2 separate regions of the Homo sapiens genome follow, and region 2 is linked to region 1. The links come from fine-mapping of genetic effects on gene expression. A gene starts in region 1. The other region holds a variant in brackets. All regions are shown on one strand. Distances are from middle to middle. Region 1 holds the start of PGAP6 (post-GPI attachment to proteins 6). Region 2 overlaps AXIN1 (axin 1).

Region 1 (5,205 bases):
ACCTTGGTTGCTGGGTGCAGTCCGGCACAGCACACTCAAATCACGGCTCAGCAAAATCTGCAATCTGACCTCCGTGCCTTTAAAATGAGAACCCCTGGGAGCCCCCCTTTCCCCTCAGTCGGGGCTGAGGACGGCCCAGCTGGGATTCCCGGGAAACAAAGGGTCTCTTTAAGGCTCAGCCGGGGCTTCCTTCCTCCCCGGCCAACACCCTCCACCTCCGCTGCTCTGGCCTTCAGGGGTCTGGGCTCGTGGAGTCAGCTTCCCCTCCCCCGCTCCGTAAACCCTCACCACCCGCTGCGGCGTTCAAAAGGTACAAACAGGTATGGTCCCTGCGGCCATCCCCATCCCCACCCCGCCTCTCCTCCTCCAAGGTCAACCAGTGTAGCCGGTGCTGGATCATTCCAGACATTCGATGCCTTTGACACACACAAAGGAAACGTGTTTTTCTCCCTTTTCTACACAAATGGTAGAGCTTTGAACACACCGTTCTTCCTGTTCCTTTCTTGCAGCTACTGCTGCACCTGGTGGACCATTTCCAAGCAGCACAGCGCTTCCTGTCTTTCCTGTCTCGGCCACGCTCTGTCTCGTTTAGACCCCGTATGAATGATTTGAATGTCCCACCGGCCAGTGACACGCATGTAGGCGGTGCCACATTGACTCACTGGACGCATGCAGTGTGCCACTTCCGTGAACGTACCTGGAGGGAAAAACGCAGAGGTGGAATTCCCGAGGGAAGGTCATTGCTGCTGTTACTTCAGTGGACAAGTCGGGGGGGTTCCCACGAGGCTCCCACATCCTCTGCCTGCTGCAAGCAGTGTCTGTGGGCCACAGTCTCACCTGTTAGTACAGTTTTTATTTGCCAATGTGTTAGGTGAAAGGAAAAAGAAGTCACTTTAATGGGGTTTTCCTTTAATTTTTTTTTTTTTTAAACTTTTTACCCTCACATCCTGGGAAGGACACTTTAGTGTTTTGTTTTTTGTTTTTGTTTTTGTTTTTGTGTTTTTGTTTTTTGAGACGGAGTCTCGCTCTGTCGCCCAGGCTGGAGTGCGGTGGCGCGATCTCGGCTCACTGCAACCTCCGCTTCCCGGGTTCAGGCGATTCTCTGGCCTCAGCCTCCGGAGTAGCTGGAGTAGTTTTTAATTTGCATTTCTGCGCTGAGGGAGGAGGATCAGCGTATCCCTGGCAGCTGTCCTTCAGTATTTTCTAGGGGAGCGTTTCTGTGATTGATTTAGAGCTGTTTATTACTGCACTGTTACTAGTCTTATTAAGGTGAGCTCTGCGGTGTGAGCTGCAAGCTGTGTCCCCCACCTCCCAGTCGGGGGCTCGTCTTTTGGACTTCGCTTATGCAGTTTGGCTTTGCAGACGCCCCCACCCCCCTCCCACCCACGACGCGGCGGAACTTCTGGACTCTGTGCCACGCTTGGAAAAGCCGACTTGGCCCTAAGACGGAAAAAGCTTCCCCGAGTTTTCTAGGCTTTATCGCTTCCTTTTTTCGGCTCAAATCTTACATGGTGGGAATCCATCCAGGTGCAAAGCGCCGGGAGTTGATGCCACGCACCCGTGTGAACCGCCACCCCGATCGGGTACTACAGTCCCTAAACACAAGCAGCCTTCTCGTCTGTGCATAAAAGCGTGGATCTGACACGCACCTGCAGCGGCTCTGCGGCGTGAAGGCCGGCCCGGGGGTCCCCGTGCTGAGGCGCCTGACTCAGGCCCACGCGCGCCGGGCGGGGCAGGGCAGGGCGCGGGTTCCTCTCGGTCCCAGGCGGAGGTCGGCGCCTCTGCCCCCCGCGGGCTCCCCGAGCCTGCCACGGAGGTCCCGGCCGAGCGGAGCTGGGACTCAGCGAACCGGCGGGGAAGCCCCGCGGAGCCCACGCCTCGGGGAGAATTTCCTGCGTGTTCCGAGCGCGCCCGGCGCGACCTCTCCGTCCTGGGACCCCCGCGATCCCTCCATCCCGCGCCCTCCCTCCAGCGTCCCCCCGGACCGCGCGCGCCCCGGTCCGTCCCCCGCGCGCCCCACGTGACCCCTCCCCCCTACCGGCGCCCCACGTGACCCCTCCCCCCGGCGTCCGCGCCCCCCCCGGTCCCGCCCCCCGACCCCGCCCTCGCCTTCCCGGCTCGGCCTGCGGGGCGGGGCCTGCGGGCGGAAGTGCCCGGGGCGACGGCGGCGGGGACCGGCCGGGCCATGGGCGCCGGGGGCAGAGGCGGAGGCGGCAGAGGCGGAGGCGGCAGAGGCTGCCCGGGCGGCGGCGGGGGCCGGCGGCGCGGGACGCGGGCCGGGTAGCGCCGGGCCGAGCGCGGAGCCATGGGCCGGGCTGGCACCGGGACCGGGGGCGAGGCGGTGGCCGCGGTGGTGGCGGGGCCGCTGCTGCTGCTGCTGCTTGCCCGGCCCCCGCCTGCCTCCGCCGGCTACAGCGGGAAGAGCGGTGAGCGGGAGGCGCGGGCGCCATCGGGGGCGTGGGGCCGGGGCTGCGGGCGGGGCGGGATTGTGACACCCCGGGCGCACCTGTGCGCTCATCTGGCGCCGGCGCGGGGTTGGGGGTCCCCGCCGCGGGTTGGGGGTGCACAGTGGCCCTTTGGGGCGCTTCGTGTCCTAGGGGTCGAGGCGGACGGGACCCCGCGCTTCCTCCTCGGTCCCCCGATCGGGGTTGGGCCACATCGGCCCCTGGAGCGCCCCCTCCCCTCCCTCCTCCTCCCAGAGCGCCCAGGTCCGGCGCGCCCGGCGCGGGGAAGTGGAGGGGCCCAGGGGACTCTGCCCGGGACTCCAGCTGGGAGGAGTGGCTGGGCCGTGAGCTCACCGGCCGGGTCCGGCCTGAGAGAGGGGCAGAGCCGGGAGAAAGTTGTTAGACCCTGTAGCGGGGGCCCGTGGGCGTCATGGCTCCAGCCCTTCCGCAGTGACCCCCAGCCCTGGTACGGCCGCTTCCTGCCGCCGGCCCGGCTTCTGGGAGGAGGGACTCCCAGCTGGCGGAAGAGGGGCTGAGGAAAGGGCGCCCCTCTCCCCTCTTGTTGGGAAACTCGCCGGGCTCCCTTTGCATTTCTGTTCCCTGAGGGTCCCCGTCCCTGACTGAGGTCCAAGGAGGCGGCTGGACCAGGGAGAAGGCGTAGCCCTTCCACGGGGTAGGGACGTGGGTGTGGAGACCGTCAGGCCTTGGCCACCCTGAGATGGTGAGGACTTGCCCCGGCCTCTGTGGCCTGGGACTCTGGAGGGGCCGTGTCCTTTCTGGCCGGCTGGAAGTTCCCACACGTCCCCAGCCACGCGGGTGCCCAGGTGCCCGGCAGCTGATGCGGTGCTGTTCCCCGACTTCCCGGCCCCCAGCCCCTCCCCTCCCCTGCCCCTGAAATAATGCTCCTTTGAGCTCCTGTTTCTTTCGGGGGCTGTGCCTCCTGCTTTCTGAGCTTGGCACAGGTAGAGATGAAAGGCAGTTTTCCCCGAGGACCGTGCCCCGGATTAAATTGCTCCATGGCCAGGCGCGAAGCTCACGCCTGCAATCCCGCACTTTGGGAGGCTGAGGCGGGTGGATCACCTGAGGTCAGGAGTTCGAGACCAGCCTGACCAACATGGAGAAACCCCCTTCTCTACTAAGAATACAAAATTAGCCGGCAGTGGTGGCGCATGCCTGTAATCCCAGCCACTCGGGAGGCTGAGGCAGGAGAATCGCTTGAACCCGGGAGGCAGAGGTTGCGGTGAGCCGAAGTCGCTCCATTGCACTCCAGCCTGGACAACAGAGCGAGACTCCATCTCAAAAAAAAAAAAGAAAGACAGAAAGAAAAAAAAATAACCTGGGTGTGGTAATGTAAGCCTGCGGTTCCAGTTACATAGGAAGCTGAGGCTGCGGTGAGCCGTGTTCATGGCACTGCACTCTAGCCTGGGTGACAGAGTGAGACCCTCAGAAATACCAAAACCTTACTCCGTTGGAAACTGGCAAAGGAAATTCTCCTGTCCCAGAACTCAGGCCTGGTGAGGGGTTCCTGGGAGATGGAACCCCTGTGTGTGGACAGTGGAGAGGCCTGGTGTGCTGGCTCAGCCCCTCACTCCTCCCAGCCTGCCGAGGAGTAAGTGCTCTGTGGCGTTGTGGGTGGTCAGGGTCTCCCATGGGTGCCTGTCCCGGTTTGGAGGACGTGGGTCTGGGGTCTTCACTCAGGTTCCCAGGACAGGGCCAGGGACTTGCATTACCACCTTCCCCACCCAGCCCTGTGTCCGTGGAGGGGCTGTGGGGCAGGCAGGGGGCTGTGTAGCTGGCCCTCCTCACCCTGTGGTCACCTCGGCTCAGAGCACCCCTAACAGCCTGGTATGTGTGGGCAACTTGGGCAGGGAGCTTGGGCTGCAGAGCCCTGGGAGAGGCCTGGAGGGGCTGTGAGCCCTGGGAGTCGGGGACTGGGTGTTAGGACAACCTTGAACAGATCTCTTATCTCTGTGTACCTGCTGAAACTTCACAGCCACCAGCTGGGTTCTAGGTGCCCTCAGGCTGGCGCTCCAGGGCCAGAGGGGCTGAGGGCTTTGCCCCAGCAGCCCAGGGGCTGTGTGTGCTGCAGGTGGCCTCCCCTGCCTGCCCCCGCAGAGGCCGGCTTTCTCCGGGACACCGTGGTCCTGGGGGGCTGTCCTGCTTCAGCTCCCAGCACTTGAGCTTTCTCTGCCCACATTATCAGGCCACAGCCTGGTGGGTGGGACCTGGTGGCCAGCAGACACCTGGAAAGCCTGGAGTGCGTCGTGGGTGGAGCCTGGCCAGCCCCTGCCCAGTCGCCACGCCAGGTTCCCCTGGAGCTTGGCCTGGATTTGCCGACAGGCTGCTATTGGCAGGTGTATCGTTTCTTCTGGTGCCTCTATGGGAGGGTCACGAGGCTGGCAGGAGAGCCTGCTGCTCACCTGTCTCCCTCCTCAGGAGGGGCCTGGGCCTGAGCCAGCCACTCTCCAGTGAGACCTAGGCAGCGCTCCTGAGTGTGTGGGGAGGGGGAGCTGCAGCAGAGGGGAGGGTCCCGCCCCCTGCTGTGTCCACTGTGCTTTTCCTTCTGAAGCCTTTGTCGTTAATTAACCTCGGAGGGAGGGGCCCCCAAAGGGATGTGCCCTCCGCCCTGACCTACCCAGGAGAAGGCTGGGACCCAGGGAGGGAAGGATGCCCAAGGTCGCAAGGGCACGAGGCTGGAGCTGGCACGGGGGGCTGGGGGTGAGAGCCTGAGTCCTCGCCTGGGGCCATGAGCAGGATGTCT
Region 2 (5,205 bases), 44 kb after region 1:
TGACTGTGTTTCTGGTAATGGCCTAAAAGGTTAAGAGAAGAAATGGTTAAAAAAAAAAAGAAGAAGAAGAAGAAGAAAAAGAAAGGGCCCAAAATGTGTACAGAGTTGTCTGTGGAGGAGTGGTTTTGGGTTTCCATGTCCGTTGGACCTCAGGCGGTGGTGCTGTTGAAGGTGCCCGGCTGCAGAGGGGCTGTGTTGCAAGGGTGAACTCTGCTTCCTGTGCAAAGGGTGTGGCCCAGGGTGGGGTCGCCCCCAGGCTTGTCTTGTTAAGGGGACCTCTGCTGTGGTGCAGAGGGGGCAGAGGTGCTTGTGAGCCATACTGCCCCTTGCGTGGGCTCCCCTTGCCTGGGTGTGGGGGGTTTCTAGTCTCCTTTGGGGTATTTGCTTCCCCTGTTTGAGCAGATCTGAAGAGAATTTTTTTTTTTTTTTAGACAGTCTTGCTCTGTCACACAGGTTGGAGTGCAGTGGCACCATCTCGGCTTACTGCAGCCTCCGCCTCCCAGGTTGAAGCAGTTCTCCTGCCCCAACCTCCCCAGTAGCTGGGATTATAGGCACCTGCCGCCATGCCTGGCTAATTTTTTTTTTTTTTTTTTTTTTGAGATGGAGTCTCGCTCTATCGCCAAGGCTGGAGTGCAGTGGCACAATCTTGGCTCACTGCAAGCTCCACCTCCTGGGTTCAAGCACTTCTCCTGCCTCAGCCTCCTCAGCAGCTGGGACTACAGGCGCGTGTCACCACGCCCGGCTAATTTTTTTTTTTTTTGTATTTTTAGTAGAGACGGGGTTTCACCTTGTTAGCCAGGATGGTCTCGATCTCCTGACCTTGTGATCCGCCTACCTCAGCCTCCCAAAGTGCTGGGATTACAGGTGTGAGCCACCACGCCCGGCCTTTTTTTTTTTTTTTTTTTTTTTTTGAGACCAGGCTGGCTGGTTTTGAACTCCTGACCTCAAGTGATCTGCCCGTCTCGGCCTCCCAAAGTGCAGGGGTTGCAGGTGTGAACCACCACACCCTGCCCAAAGGGAAATTTTTTTTGTTTGTGGATGTCCAAGGAAAACTTTAAAAATGATTCCTGGCCAGGCACGGTGGCTCATGCCTGTAATCCCAGACTCTGCTGGACTCTGCTGGTGCTCTGCTGGACTCTGTCCCCACAGCACCAGCTTGCATCCCACTTTTTTTTTTTTTCCCCAAGATGGAGTTTCGCTCTTGTCACCCAGGCTGGAGTGCAATGGCGCGATCTCAGCTCACTGCAACCTCTGCCTCTCAGGTTCAAGTGATTCTCTAGTCTCAGCCTCCCGAGTAGCTGGGATTACAGGTGCATGCCCCCACTCCTGGCTACTTTATGTATTTTTAGTAGAGACAAGGTTTCGCCATGTTGGCCAGGCTGGTCTCGAAATCTTGACCTTAAGTGGTCCGCCCACCTTGGCCTCCCAAAGTGCTGGAATTATAGGCGTGAGCCACTGTGCCCAGTCCATCTTGTATTTTTATGCACCTGTCAGTGGGCAAGGACTCCAAACATATTTTTTCTCTTCCTTAGCCACGTAAAGCTCCATAGTCTCAGACAGGTTTCAGCAGAGTCCACGAAAGTATCTGTAGTTGCCTGTCAGGCCAAAGGATTCTGGAACCGAGAGGCCCCTTTGCCTGGGCGGACCTCAGTCCTGAGCTGTGTGGGTGGGTTGTGAAAGGGAAGCACTTTGCAGACAGCCAGTGGCAGACGTGCCGATGAGACTGTGTGCCTGGCCCTGGTGCTGGTGCTGACCTGCAGCAGCTGTTTCTGGAGGGCTTGGGGTAAGTGTCCCTGCGGGCCCCTGTGGCCCTTCTTGGAACTGTGCCCTAGCCGTGACTGGCCGCCTGGCACCCCAGCCCATTCTCACATTTTGCGCCAGTGTCACAGATTTGAATTGACGCACACGCTCCGGTTCTGCTCATCCTTGTCAAACGCAGACGTCATTTGTAGCAGCGTACCCTGCAGTTATCGGAGGTGGGGGCCAGGCTGGGCTATGGTGGCTGTCAGGGAGAGAGGGCCGCCTGTTGGCTCTTTCTTGGGCCCCTCCGCTGCCTACTTGTGCGTGTGGAGGGAAGCAGCTTCACCTCAGTTTTTCCCCGTGTCACATCTGTGAGAATAACCACTCAGGGTTCTCTCAGAACCCATTAGCTCCAGAAGGTGTTCGGTCTCTCCACTCCCTGAGAGATGGAGACTGGTCACAGGGCTCTGTGAAAACACACACAGCTCTGCCATACTGCTGTGGCGTCCAGGGGGCCCCCAGAGGCCGCACGCCCGGCTGAGTGCCCATAGGGCCCAGATTCCATGCCCCTTCTCCTCCAGCAAGGACCCTGGGCCCTGTCCGGAGTTGAACGCTGGCTTGTGTGGATTGCAGCCTCGGCCCACGGGCTTCCTTTGTGATCCGTTGAAGCATCTGCTGGCAAATGGGCTCAGCTCTTGGCTCAGCTGGCTAGGTGGCCAGGTGGCCGGGTAGCTGGGCGTCCGGGTGTCCTGGCAGGCGCTGTCCTCACTGTGAGCTGCA[G/A]TGGGCTGCTTGGTCCTGTGCCCTGCTCATGGCACTCACCCTCCTGCCTCCTTTGAGGTTGCTCCAGTGCTTTTTTTTTTTTTTTTTTTTGGTTTTGACCCACTCTGGATCTTTACTAGCTCACCTGTAGTCTATGGGATTGGTGTCTGCTCCTAAACAAACATTTAAAATAACCCTAAGGAGTGCTGCTTGTAATATTCCAGCAAATAGGATGACTTGAATGCCCAGTGGCATTCATACAGTTGGATATGTGGGCTTTTAATTTTTTTCTTTGTTTTTCTGTATTTTCCAAATTCCTATAACAGCATGTTTATAATTAGAAAGTATATTATTAAAAGAATAAAAGCTTTAAAATATGCAGCTATTCAAAAGCACATTTTTTCTTTAAAAAGGATACACGTAAATGTGTCTTTTTTTTTTTTTTTTTTTTTTTTTTTTGAGACGGGGTCTTGCTCTGTCACCCAGGCTGGAGTGCAGTGGTGTGATCTCAGCTCACTGCAACCTCTCCCTCCCAGGCTCAAGAGCTCCTCCTCCCTCAGCCTCCCCAGTATCTGGGATTACAGGCGCCTGCCACCATGCCCGGCTAATTTTTTTGTGTTTTTAGTAGAGACGGGGTTTCACCGTGTTAGCCATCATGGTCTCCATCTCCTGACGTTGTGATCCACCAGCCTCGGCCTTCCAAAGTGCTGGGATTACAGGCGTGAGCCACTGTGCCTGGCCCACACCTGGTTAAGTTCTTGTATTTATGTTTTGTTTTTTTTTTTTTTTTTTGAGGCGGAGTCTTGCTCTGTTGCCCAGACTGGAGTGCAGTGGTGCAACCTCAGCTCACTGCAACCTCCGCCTCCTGGGTTCAAATGATTCTCCTGCCTCAGCTTCCTGAGTAGCTGGGATTACAGACATGCGCCACCACACCTGGCTAATTTTTGTATTTTTAGTAGAGATGAGGTTCCACCATATTGGCCAGACTGGTCTTGGACTGACCTCGTGATCTGCCCGCATTGGCCTCCCAAAGTGCTGGGATTACAGGTGTGAGGCACCGCGCCCAGCTGGTGTCTGTTCTTTTAGGGAACCAGCCCTCTTGGGTCAGGGCCCCACGTTTGCGTTCTCATCTAACAATAACACTTCCTTACTTCAAGCACAGCCACGTGATGGTCAGGGCTGACACATATTAATTGGGCGACACGGTTCGGTCCTTAGTGCCTTTTCTGAGTAACGTGCTCACTGCTATCTTGTGTCCACTGGCTCTTTGAGAGCTCTGCTGCTCTCCTGTCTCACCCCTACCCTGAGGTGTTCATGCACCAGGGCATGGTGCTTTCACTTCTGAGCCAAGTGGGTCAATCATTTTCTTTTTTGAGACGGAGTTTTGCTCTTGTATCCCAGGCTGGAGTGCAATGGCACCATCTTGGCTTACTGCAACCTCCGCCTCCTGGGTTCAAGAAATTCTTCTGCCTCGGCCTCCCGAGTAGCTGGGATTACAGGCGTGCATCACCACACCCAGCTAATTTTTGTATTTTTAGCAGAGACCAGGTTTTACCATGTTGGCCAGGCTGGTCTCGAACTCCTGACCTCAAGTGATCCCCCTGCCTTGGCCTCCCAAAGTGCTAGGATTATAGGCGTGAGCCACCACGCCTGGCCATTTTCTTTCCTGTACAATTTTGTGTGTTTGTTTTTGAGTTAATAATGGCCGTTTTTTTCATTTGATTAAATATTTTACTTTCCAACTTAAATCTTCCCATATTCTTCAGCTCAATAGAGTGCTTGTGAATATTCTTCTCCTCACTGTAAAACCTCTTGGATAAAGTATTTTTTCTCTGGAAGACATGTGTCCTGAAGTCTTCCATATTCCCACTCTGGTTGAAACAGTTACTCTTTAGGCATCCTGTGGTACTGGGTGCCTTGGAGCTGGTGTGTGTGGTACTGGCATGCTGTGTAACTGGGCGCAGTGGTACTGGGTGCTGTTATTGGGTGCCATGGTACTGGGTGTTGTGTTATTGGGTGCCATGGTACTGGGTGCTGTGTTATTGGCATGCAGTGGTACTGGGTGCTATGTTATTGGTGTGCCGTGGTACTGGGTGCTGTGTTATTGGCGTGCTGTGGTACTGAGTGCTATGTTATTGGTGTGCTGTGGTACTGGGTGCTGTGTAATTAGTGTGCCGTGGTACTGGGTGCTGTGTAATTAGCGTGCCATGATACTGGGTGCTGCATTATTGGCATGCTGTGGTACTGTGTGCTGTGTTATTAGTGTGTCCTGGTACAGACTAGTGGCCGAGGTGTGCCTGTGTGGAGATCTGAGGGTGACGTAAGTAGAGGCACTGGCGTGAGGGCCCCTCATGCAGTGTCAGGCTTGCACCTTTGCTTGGAAATTCCATTAGCTTTGGAATTTATAGCTTCGTGGTGCAGTGTGGAGTTATGTTGGAGATACCACAAAGATAAAGCATTTCCATGGTGAACAAAAAAGTTTACAAATAAAAGCAGTCCAGGCCGTTTTTATTTTGGCTTTGTTATGTGTCCACTTACTGCTGTGCATTCTATACGCCAATGGGAGTGTTTTGTAGATTCTCATGAGTTGGTTGCGTTTGGTTCATTTGGGTAAAGTGAAACTCCTTTTAAAAGAAGCAGAAAAAAATTAAATATCTCATAAAAATAAAGATTTTCTATTTCTGCCTCAGAGTGTTTCTCTCTAGT

What was found. PIP is the estimated chance that this variant, and not a neighbour inherited with it, causes the effect.
Region 2: its variant is the best candidate, but not a certain one, in a credible set for the expression of PGAP6 in whole blood (TOPMed, PIP 0.72).

Annotation. Positions count from the first base shown.
Region 1 is chr16:378,922-384,126 of GRCh38, reverse strand. PGAP6 (post-GPI attachment to proteins 6) reads left to right here and starts at 2,149. Exons shown (of 13, transcript NM_021259.3): 1 at 2,149-2,426. The coding sequence starts at 2,306. LOC100134368 (a long non-coding RNA gene) reads right to left here and starts at 1,886. Exons shown (of 3, transcript NR_024453.2): 1 at 1,650-1,886; 2 at 698-837. RefSeq lists silencers at 1,683-2,032, 2,053-2,282, 2,323-2,472, 2,603-2,722 and an enhancer at 2,157-3,056.
Region 2 is chr16:334,903-340,107 of GRCh38, reverse strand. All of the region lies in intron 2 of AXIN1 (axin 1), which reads left to right. Among named protein-coding and RNA genes, the nearest start is that of AXIN1, 15 kb to the left of the region's middle. RefSeq lists enhancers at 1-650, 3,585-3,879. The variant G/A (reference allele first, on the strand shown) is at 2,521.